3 linked regions of the Homo sapiens genome follow. The protein of the gene in region 2 purifies or fractionates together with the protein of the main gene of each other region. This does not show direct contact. Each region holds a gene or a part of one and is shown on either strand. Other genes may lie near its edges.

Region 1 (3,648 bases), on a different chromosome or scaffold from region 2:
AGCCTGCGGTGGCCTCGAGCCTCGCTGGGAAGCAGCTGCAAACTTGCATCTTGGCTGATTTGCGGCCGCAAAGCCCAGATCTCTGGCACACTTTCTGCCCTGAAAGGTGTCCTGTGTGTTACAAGTCAATTACTTTTTTTTTTTTTTCCCAAACACAATCAAACCTTGAATGGGTTGATTTACTGGGAAGCTGGTCCAGGGCTCATGAGTAATGAATGGCTTTGGCCAATCTGCATGGAGTCCTGGCAATTTGTCATTCTTCCTCCAGCTTCTGTTACCCTGGCGCTCCTTTAGAATGATTCTTGGTTTTCATGGCCAACAGAATAGCAGGAGGTGGTGTCTGGGGTCCGAGCCCAAATCTAATTCTCTTCTGCCACTTCCTGTCTGTGAGACCCCAAGCTAGTGGTATAACCTCTCTGGGCATCCTGTTTCTGCATCTGTAAAAAGGGTGACAATCGTCCCCCTCTTGTAGCCTGTTGGGAATCCCAGGGAGAGAGGGTGTGTAAGTAGAGTGCTTGGCGTGGAGCCTGGCATGTAATAGCCTGGGCACACAGTGGCTATTGTGATGGTTGCTCTAACAACTGAGGTTCTTCCCAGGAGCACTCGGTCTCTTCTGGACACCTTCTGATTGCTCAGAATTGAGGAGGGGAAAGGTGGGCATTGTGGTTTGTCTGCTCTGCCCACAGGAGGCAGGAGACGGGCCAGTGGACTTAGACACTCGTCTTTCCTGCATCGTTTCTGGGTGAAAAGGTGCAAGGAGGAGGGAGCAGAGAGGCTGGTCTCAACAGCTGTGCTGGGTGAAGGGTTCGAGTGCTGGCTCTGGGAGAATGAGTTCACCTTCACCGCCCTGTGCCTCGGTTTCTTTATCTGTCAAATGGGGAAGTTGCCATTTCCTGCCGGATGAGCCGGCACAGTCCTTGGTACATAGAAGGCGCTAGGAATGGCCACTGGTATAATAAGAAAAGCCGGGCCGTAGCGTCCTCTGATGGAACACGTGGGACCCGAGCGGGCAGGGTTTTTGGGGGTGAGGTGTCTGTGGTTTCGGCTGGCTGGGTTTGAGTATGCTCCGTCATCCCGCAACCCCCGTGGTGACAGGGTGGGAGTCCTGTAACCTGTCACACCAGCATGTGAGGGCCACATGCCCCACGAGGGGGTGATCTAAGGCTGAGTTTGGGCAGAGAGGCCAAAAAAAGGTGCCAGGCAGCTCACGGACAGAGGTGCTCGTGCCACACAGAATTCTCAGTTCTGGGAATTTTTGTCACCAAAATTGCTGAGGACTCGGGCAGCTACGTCGCCTGTACCAGGGGTGCGCCTGCCCCAACAGTGCCTGCTGGGCCCCTTAAATCCGCCAGCCTCCTAGCTGAGCCATCAGTGGCTCCTTGGTGGCCTCGCAGGTCTCCTGATCTGGCAGAGTCTTGATTTAGGAGCCTCGGTTCCAACCCCAGCCCTGCTTCTGGGAGGCTCTCCTGAGCCTCAGTCCCCTCAGGGGTGTGGCTGCTGGGTCTTCGTGGCGGTAAGGGACAAGTCGGAGTGCAGGGGGTCAAGGACAGGAGGTGGCTGGCTGTAGCAATAATCGGAAAAATGACAGTGGCTCGGAGCAGAGTGGTGGTGGTGGAGGAGAGGGTGGGCATTGTTATCTCGAATGAAAACCAGTCCTGTTTGCTTCTGTGGCTTGTAAGTTTCTCCTCATCCATAAACCTGCCTCTCACAGTGGGGGGTCTGGACTCCGTCCTTCAGGCGTTTGTAATGCAGCTGGGGTGACCTTGCAGACAGGGTCACTAGGAGCCCTGAATCAGGGGTGCAGTTCCCCTCCCACCTGGCTGCACCCACACATTCAGGCTGTGTAACCTCCTTTCGGGCCGAGGTCACCACTCCCTGGCTCTCCTTGGCCGCCACGAAGGGCATTCTTCCGGCAGAGTGTGGGCGGCTCCCCGGCTTGCCTGCTCATGCCTCCCCTGACCTCAGACGCATCGCCCAGAGGGCAGGAGGAGCCCCGGGGTGTCCTTGGTGACGACTCCACCCCCCATGAGAGGAATCGGCCTGCTGGCCTGAAGCCCTCTCTGCTGCCCAGACAGGCGCGGGTGGCCCAGTCCACTGGCTGCGTGGCATTGGCAGTGACACAGGAGGAACCTGGGCCCGACTCGTGCCACCCATAGGAGTCCTTGTAATGGCAGCCCCACCCTCAGCCTTTTTGGCGACAGCCTGGAGAGGGCAACCACCCTATGTGGTGTAACGGGTGGAGAAACCAGGCTTAGATGGGTGATGTGGCCTGCCCAGGGCCTCCCGCTAGTGAGGGTGGAGCTGGGATTCCAACCCTCATCTGTGTGATCTGGAGCTTGCTCTCAGCCCCAAGGGAGTGTGGCCTGTGTCCCCCAGGGATGAAGAGTCCCCGGTAACAGGCTCTTCCTCATCCTCCTCAGGGAGAAGAAATGGGTGACCGTTGGTGACACATCCCTACGAATCTACAAATGGGTCCCTGTGACGGAGCCCAAGGTTGATGACGTGAGTATGGAGGGCTGGTCCCCTGGGGTGGGCCACCCATTCGTGCTCCTCCCACCATGGGGAGGGAGATTGTCCACTGCTACCCACCGTGCTGGGGCTCTGGGACCAAGAGCCCCTGGGAGTAGAAGGACCCAGATTAGACCTGGGGAGGCTGCTGTACCAGTCCCCACCCCTCCCACTCCAGCCCCAGAGTCTGGCCCTCAGAGCGGTGGACGGGGGGATCCCGCAAGCTGTGTCTTCTTCTTCTTCTTCTTCTTCTTTTTGATACAGAGTCTCACTCTGCCGCCCAGGCTGGAGTGCAGTGGTGTGATCTTGGCTCACTGCATCCTCTGCCTCGTGAGTTCAAGCGATTCTCCAGCCTCAGCCTCCCGAGTAGCTGGGATTACAGGTGCACACCACCACACCCAGCCAATTTTTTCGTATTTTTAGTAGAGACGCAGTTTCACCGTGTTGGCCAGGCTCGTCTTGAACTCCTGACCTCGGGTGATCCACCTGCCTGGGCCTCCCAAAGTGCTGGAGTTAAGGCGTGAACCAGTGCGCCCGGCCTGCAAGTTGTGTCTTCTGGGCCGAGCGCCCCCCCCAGGGCTTGGCACTGTGTTTTGGGGCAGGTGTGGTGGTGCCCACAGTTAGGCACGTTCTCCCCACCTTTGTGGTTCTGTTCCTGAGCCTCTGACCATCTGCCAGGCCCTGGGCTGATGCCTCACATGTGGCATCTCCGTTATTTTTCCTACTCAGCCTGTGGAGTTGATCTTTTTAACCTCTCCTCTGTACAAGTGAGGGCACAGGCTCAGAGAGGTGAAGCCACTTCACATGGCTCACCTCAGAGCTGTGAATGGAGCTCAGGTCTGTCTGACTCCAAAGCGCAGGTTCTCTCTGCGCTTGGAGAGGCTTCTGGTGAGTGGAGCTGCTGGTGACAGGGGTCCCCGGTGCTAGGAAAGCCTGGTGTAGGGATGCGGGGCTCCAGGAGGGCTCCAGGAGGGGTGGCGCCATCCCGACTTCCACCACTAGAGGGAATGCGAGGCGCTGTCCTGTGATGGCTGGCAACTGCCCCGAGCAGACAGTGCTCTCCCAACTTCGTGGTTCCCAGGCCAGTTACCTCCAGAGACCCCTCTCATTTCCATCCCAAATCAAGAACAGTCTGCCCCA
Region 2 (3,648 bases):
CCCAGGGGGCGGAGCCTGCAGTGAGCCGAGATTGCGCCACTGCACTCCAGCCTGGGCGACAGCGAGACTCCGTCTCAAAAAAAAAAAAAAAAAGAAAAACAACCTTCCTTCCATTGCAATCCCAGCATCCCTGAGAGAGGGCACCCAGCCTCTGCTCAAATTGTCCGATGACAGGATGGGGAGGGTGCCATAAGTCCCCTTATTGGGCTGACTGAGTAGTGTGGAGCCAGCCAAAGCCACTTCCCTCAAACCTCTGCCAGCCCCCACCCCTAAAGACTTGACCTCCAGGGCAACGGGATTCCACTCCTGCAGCTGTTCCTCACGACATGATCACCAAGAAACTGTTTTATCGCCCCATAAAAGATTCCCAGCTGACATGTGCAGAATTAAAGTGCCCTCCATATGTACACAATTTCCTTCTGCAACTTCCCTGGGAAGGCCAAGCCATCCTTATGTTCTTACCACATCCCTTGGGGGAAAAAGAATCTGCAAAGCACACGTCTGTAACACTGGCCAGCCTGGAGGCGTGCCACCTTTCAGGGGAATCATAAAAAAGATTTTCCATAACCACATCACTCTGAACAATAATCCTTTTTCTTAATGCTCCTTGGGCTTTGTGCAGAGAAATGCATACTTTGTTGAGAGCTGAATGCACAAGGTAGATGGGTACAATCTTGTATTCTGCACGTCTCACCCACAGGACCCGTCTCGGGTCACTGCAGAATCTACTTAATTATACCATGTATGGGTCACACCTTTGTCCATTCAAGTGGCTGACCCGTCACTAACCTAGCCTTTCCTTAAAGGCTGGATACTTAAGCGACTCCATATTCTCCAGTATTATTCACAATGCTACAGAGAATCTCTGTACATATAGTGGGTTTACTGATTCATTTTGTTCTTTGAAAATGTTTCTTTGGGACAAATTCCCAGGGGCGGTATTAATGGGCCAGAGAACAAAAAAGTTTGATGTCAGGATGCTTTACAGAAAGGGCACTCCCGGCTGGGCACAGTGGCTCACACCTGTAATCCCACCACTTTGGGAGGCCGAGGCGGGAGGATTACCTGAGGTCAGGAGTTCGAGACCAGCCTGGGCACAATGGTGAAACCCCGTCTCTAATAAAAATACAAAAAAATTAGCCAGGCATAGTGGTGCATTCCAGTAATCCCAGCTACTCCAGAGGCTGAGGCAAGAGAATCGCTTGAACCCAGGAGGCGGAGGTTGCAGTGAGCCGACATCATGCCACCGTACTCCAGCCTGGGCAACAAGAGTGAAAACTCCATCTCAAAAAAAAAAAAAAAAAGCACCTCCAGCACACATGAGTGCAGTTCTATCACACCTTCCCCAATTCCTTATGTTGCCAGTTTTTTGTTTTATGCTTGGAATTTTTATTTTTATTTTTTATTTATTTATTTTTTATTTTATTTTATTATTTTGAGATGGAGTTTCACTCTCGTTGCCCAGGCTGGAGAGCAATGGCGCAACCTCGGCTCACCGCAACCTCCGCCTCCCGGGTCCAAGTGATTCTCCTGCCTCAGCCTTCCTGAGTAGCTGGGATTACAGGCATGCACCACCATGCGAGGCTAACTTTGTACGTTTAGCAGAGATGAGGCTTCACCATGTTGGTCAGGCTGGTCTCGAACTCCTGACCTCAGGTGATCCGCCCGCCTCGGCCTCCCAAAGTGCTGGGATTACAGGCGTGAGCCACCGTGCCCGGCCTGTTTTTTATTTTTTTTAAGAGACAAAGAGTGTCGTTCTGTTACCTAGGCTAGAGGACAGTGGTGTGATCACCACACTCAGCTAATTTTTTTAACTTTCAGTAGAGATAACGTCTCACTATGTTGCTCAGGCTGGTCTCCTGGGCAACACAGTCAAATCGTGGGCTCAAGCGATCCTCCTGCCTTGACTTCCCAAAGTGCTGAGATTACAGGCATAAGCTACCATGCCCAGTCTTATGCTTGGAATTTTTGAAATTACACATGAGGGCAAATTCTTTCCATGTTTGTTTACTCCCTTGTACTTCAAGGTATGGACCATCTTTTACCTATTTGTTGGGGTATCCAAGTTTGTTGTATAAATCTAGATGTATAGATTCTAGATACAACATCGTAACTTCCCAATTACTTGGTTTTTTAATTGTTACTATAAATACTCTTCTAAAGGTTCTAAGTTTTGTTTTGTTTTTGTTTTTTTTGAGGTGGAGTTTCACTCTTGTTGCCCAGTCTGGAGTGCAAAGGTGCAACCTCAGCTCACTGCAATCTCCACCTCCCGGGTTCAAGCAATTCTCCTGCCTCAGGCTCCCGAGTAGCTGGGATTACAGGCATGTGCCACCACACCTGGCTAATTTTGTATTTTTAGTAGAGATGGGGTTTCTCCATGTGGATGAGGCTGCTCTCTAACTCCTGACCTCAGGTGATCTGCCCACCTCGGCCTCCCAAACTGCTGGGATTACAGGTGTGAGCCACCGTGCCCAGCCAGGTTCTAAGTTTTTATACATTCAAATCTATTGTTGTTTCTTTTGTGAGTTTATGTGAGCCACTGATTTTTCTGACAAATTGGTCCCACTTACATGTTTTTTTAAGAAATGAGGTCTTGCTGTGTTGCCCCAGGCTGGTCTTAAACTCCTGGCCTCAAGCAATGCCTCGGCCTCCCAAAGCGCTGGGATTACAAACATAAGCCACTGTGCCCCACGAGTCCCACTTTCCAAGCATTTGTAACTGTTCTCCGGAATCCAGGACTTGGCTTACGTTTCTTAGAAATTCCAATGATATAGAAGAAACTTAGAAACCTGGCTAAGAAAATGTATAAAAACAGAGGGAACTGTTAAAAAGTGTTTCAATACAAAAATCAGGACCGGGCGCGGTGGCTCACGCCTGTAATCCCAGCACTCTGGGATGCCAAGGCGGGCGGATCACCTGAGGTGGGGTTTCGAGACCAGCCTGACCAACATGGAGAGACTCGTCTCTACCAAAAATACAAAATTAGCTGGGCGTGGTGGCGCATGCCTGTAATCCCAGCTATCTGGGAGGCTGAGGCAGGAGAATCACTTGAACCCAGTAGGCAGAAGTTGCAGTGAGCTGAGATCACGCCATTGCACTCCATCCTGGGCAACAAGAGTGAAACTCTGTCTCAAAGAAAAAAAAACTAGCCAGGTATAGTGGCAGGCACCTGTAATCCCAGCTACTTGGGAGGTTGAGGCAGGAGAATCGCTTGAACCTGGGAGGCAGAGGTTGCAGTGAGCCAAGATCGTGCCACTGCACTCCAGCCTGGGCGACAAGAACAAGATTCCATCTCAAAAAAAAAAAAAAAAAGTGTTTCAATTTAACTTCAACCCAACCAGTTCTTGAGTCTCAGAAAAGACCCCACAGGTGTCCCCAGAGATGCCCTGGCCAGGAACGCATTACCTGAGGTAGGTGGGGGGCTCTGTGCTGATGGACACAGCCTTGTACTTCTCATCGTTGCCATCCAGAATCTCTTCCACTTCCGAGGCTTTTAACAGGGTCACACTGGTGGCTAGAGTCGTGTATCCGTGATCTGTAACAGACAAACATCACTGGGTCACTCTGCTGGTGGCGGTGGCACACAGCAGCCAGCCAAGTGGATGCAGCACATCAAGGTCCTCGCATGCGGGAGGTGGGAAAAGCAAG
Region 3 (3,748 bases), on a different chromosome or scaffold from region 2:
TCTTGCTCTGTTGCCCAGGCTGGAGAGCAGTGGTACGATCTTGGCTCACTGCAAACTCTGCCTCCCAGGTTCAAGCGATTCTTCTGCCTCAGCCTCCCATGTAGCTGGGATTACAGGCATGCCACCATGCCCGGCTGATTTTTGTTTTTTTTGTTTATTTGTTTGTTTGTTTTTGAGACAGAGTTTCATTCTTGTTGCCCAGACTAGAGTGCAATGGCACAATCTCAGCTCACCGCAACCTCTGCCTCCCGGGTTCAAGCGATTCTCCCGCCTCAGCCTCTCGAGTAGCTGGGATTATAGGCATGCACCACCATGCCCCGCTAATTTTGTATTTTTAGTAGAGACGAGGTTTCTCCATGTTGGCCAGGCTGGTCTCGAACTCCCGACTTCAGGTGATCCGCCTGCCTCAGCCTCCCAAAGTGCTGGGATTACAGGCGTGAGCCACCGTGCCTGGCCTAATTTTTGTATTTTTAGTAAAGATGGAGTTTCACCATGTTGGCCTGGCTAGTCTCGTACCCCTGACCTCAGGTGATCCGCCCGCCTCGGCCTCCCAAAGTGCTAGGATTACAGGTGTGAGCCACCGTGCCCAGCCAACACTTTACGTGTTTTTTTCTCATTTAATTTTTACTACAACCTTATAAGGGTGATGATCTTGTTATGATCCCTATTTATAGATGAGGAAACTGAGACCCAGAGAAGTAACTCAGCCAGTGAGCCAGCATCTTGGGCCTGTGTCCTCATCAGCTCTGCTTTTTTTTTTTCCTTTGAGATGGAGTCTCACTCTGTCACCTAGGCTGGAGTGCAGTGGCACGATCTTGCTCACTGCAACCTCCGCCTCCCAAGTTCAAGCAATTCTCCTGCCTCAGCCTCCTGAGTAGCTGGGATTACAGGCTGCACAACACCACACCCGGCTAATTTTTGTATTTTTAGTAGAGACGGGGTTTCATCATGTTGGTCAGGATGGTCTTGAACTCCTGACCTCGTGATCCACCTGCCTCGGCCTCCCAAAGTGCTGGGATTACAGGCTTGAGCCACCGTGCCCAGCCAGCTCTGCTTTCTTCCATGCAGTCAAACCCGTCTGATTGGCACCTCTTCCTCCTAGGCTCCCTGTCCCTGGCCTTCCCATTTCTCACCCGTTTTTGGTTCCAGCTGGTCTCTTCTAGTCACCTCCACACAGCTGCCAGAACAACTTTTTCCTTCATTTTTTAAGCTTTGCTTTTTTTTTTTTTTTTTTGAGACAAGGTCTCACTCTGTCGCCCAGGCTGGAATGCAGAGGCGTGATCACGGCTCACTGCAGCCTTGGATTCCTGGGCTCAGTCAGCCTCCTGAGTAGCTGGGACTACAGGCATGCATCACCATGCTCAGCTAATTAGTGTTGTTATTCTTTATAGAGACAGGGTCTTACTATGTTGCCCAGGCTGGTTTCAAACTCCTAGGCTCAAGCGATCCTTCTGCCTCAGCCTCCCAGAATGTGAAACCCTGTCTCTACTAAAAATACAAAAAATCAGCGGGACGTGGTGGCACATGCCTGTAATCCAGCTATTAGGGAGGCTGAGGCAGGAGAATCACTTGAACCTGGGAGGCGGAGGTTGCAGTGAGCCGAGATCGCGCCACTGCACTCCAGCCTGGGGGACACAGCGAGACTCTGTCTCAAAAACTAAAACAAACAAACACACAAAAAGAAAACCCTGATGTGGGCCTGTGGACTGGGTCTGGGTCTAGACAGTGCCAAGCAGTTGTATACCTTTGCTAATATAAAAATGGTAGCAAGCATTTATTGAGCACTTACTGTGTGCCAGCCACTGTGCTTTACCTGCATCCGCTCATCTGACCCTCACAACAGCCACATGAGGTAATTACTATCATTATCCCCATTTTACAGATGGGGAAACTGAGGCCCATGGAAATGAAGTAGCTGGCCCAAGGTCAGGATTTGAACCCAGGCAGTCCAAGCCCAGAATCTGTGGCAACTTAGCATGCATTCCCTCTGTCTCACGTGTCATACTTTCCTGTCCACCGCATCACCCTCGAGCTCCCACATCAGTGTTCCCTCCTCTGCTTCCTGGGGCACAGCCAGGTTCCTGCTCTCTCCTCTCTGCTCCCATGGCCCTCTGCCCTCTGTGACTGGGGCCTGTGACCATCTGTTTCCCCCACTGTCTGTGCTGCTGGCACAGAGTGGCTGTTCAGGGGATGTTTGTTACCTTGACGTTCCAGATCCCGGGGGCATAACTGCTGGCAGCACCGACGAACCCCCAATGCTGACCAAGGAGGAGCCTGTTCCAGAACTGCTGGAAGCTGAGGTGAGAGAGGCCAGAAGGCTGGACTCCTGGGTCTTGGAGGGAATGGGGGATCTGGGCAGTCGAAGGCTTGGAGCCTGCGTCCTGAGGGCCTGGAGGAGAGGCAGACCTGGGACAGAGCTGAAGGCTTAGGGGCTGGGTTCTTGGGACTGAAAAAGAAAGGGTGTTTCAGAGACAAAGTGCTGAGGGCTGGATCAGGGCTGATTGAGACCATTAAAAGCCTGACAAAGCTGGGCGTGGTGGCTCACGCCTGTAATCCCAGCACTTTGGGAGGCGGAGGCGGGTGGATCATGAGGTCAGGAGATCGAGACCATCCTGGCTAACACGGTGAAACCCCGTCTCTACTAAAAATACAAAAATTAGCCGGGCGTGGTGGCACGTGCCTGTAGTCCCAGCTACTCGGGAGGCTAAGGCAGGAGAATTGCTTGAACCCGGGAGGCGGAGGCTGCAGTGAGCCAGGATCGCGCCACTGTACTCCAGCCTGGGTGACAGAGCGAGACTCCTTCTCAAAAATAAATAAATAAATAAAGCCTGACAAAATCATGGCGCTCCTCCATGCATTTTCAAAAAATATCAAAAAATATCTAACTGTATAATTAGCATAAGAAAATTCCTTATAAACCTCTGACATTTCTCACGAGGCTACCTCGAGGCATTTTCAGAAATATCAAATATCAGGTTCGTTCCTCCACACAGTGTCACTGTCGTTGTTGTTTTTGGTGCCTGCTTCCTCTGCATCCTGGGCATCTGGCCCTGGGCTTGCCTCCCGGGCCCAGGAGGGGAGGGGAGTGGAGGCTTTGGAGAAGGCAGAGGCTCAGAGGCTGGACGCCTGGGTTCTGTGGAGCTCACGCCTGTCCACCCTTCCTCTCCAGGCCCCCGAAGCTTACCCTGTCTTTGAGCCAGTGCCACCTGTCCCTGAGGCAGCCCAGGGTGACACAGAGGACTCGGAGGGTGCCCCCCCACTCAAGCGCATCTGCCCAAATGCCCCTGACCCCTGAGAAGCCGGCCTGCCTGTCCTGTTGCCCCAGGGGCCCCTTTGGCTTTTTACAAATAAAGACCCTTTTGTAATTTTGTGTCATGTCATTTCCCCGTCAGGGCTGGGGAGGGTCTTTGGAGACAGTTTTGTCTCATGCACCATTGCTCAGATGTGGTCACTGAGGCTCTGAGAGGACCTTCCTGTAGTGACACCACAAGGCAGAGTGGGGTGGGGGCTTGAGCCAGGACCCTGCCTCTCAGTACTTCCCAGGTCTGTCCTATCTCCCGACCTTCACCTCCTCCTCTGGGAGGCCCAGGACCCCTCTTCCTGCTCAGCCCTCGCCTGGGCCTAACAATTATCAAAACTCTGGGTAGCTAGGCCATGATTCTTTTTTTTTTTTTTTTTTTTTTGAGACACAGACTTGTTCTGTTGCCCAGGCAGGAGTGCAGTGGTGCGATCATGGCTCACTGCAGCC

What was found.
Region 1: the proteins of SMARCB1 (region 2) and BCL7A purify together in Homo sapiens (affinity purification with mass spectrometry; 8 studies listed by BioGRID and IntAct, with this or other methods). This does not show direct contact.
Region 3: the proteins of SMARCB1 (region 2) and BCL7C purify together in Homo sapiens (affinity purification with mass spectrometry; 8 studies listed by BioGRID and IntAct, with this or other methods). This does not show direct contact.

What each region holds. Positions count from the first base shown.
Region 1 is NC_000012.12:122,028,280-122,031,927, forward strand, and holds part of BCL7A (B-cell CLL/lymphoma 7 protein family member A), read left to right. Parts: intron 1-2,420; coding exon 2,421-2,502; intron 2,503-3,648.
Region 2 is NC_000022.11:23,793,446-23,797,093, reverse strand, and holds part of SMARCB1 (SWI/SNF-related matrix-associated actin-dependent regulator of chromatin subfamily B member 1), read right to left. Parts: intron 3,536-3,648; coding exon 3,406-3,535; intron 1-3,405.
Region 3 is NC_000016.10:30,887,412-30,891,159, reverse strand, and holds the end of BCL7C (B-cell CLL/lymphoma 7 protein family member C), read left to right. Parts: intron 1-2,201; exon of another isoform or gene 2,202-2,214; coding exon 2,215-2,300; exon of another isoform or gene 2,301-2,446; intron 2,447-3,169; coding exon 3,170-3,295; 3' UTR 3,296-3,365; downstream 3,366-3,748. UniProt on the Homo sapiens protein: May play an anti-apoptotic role.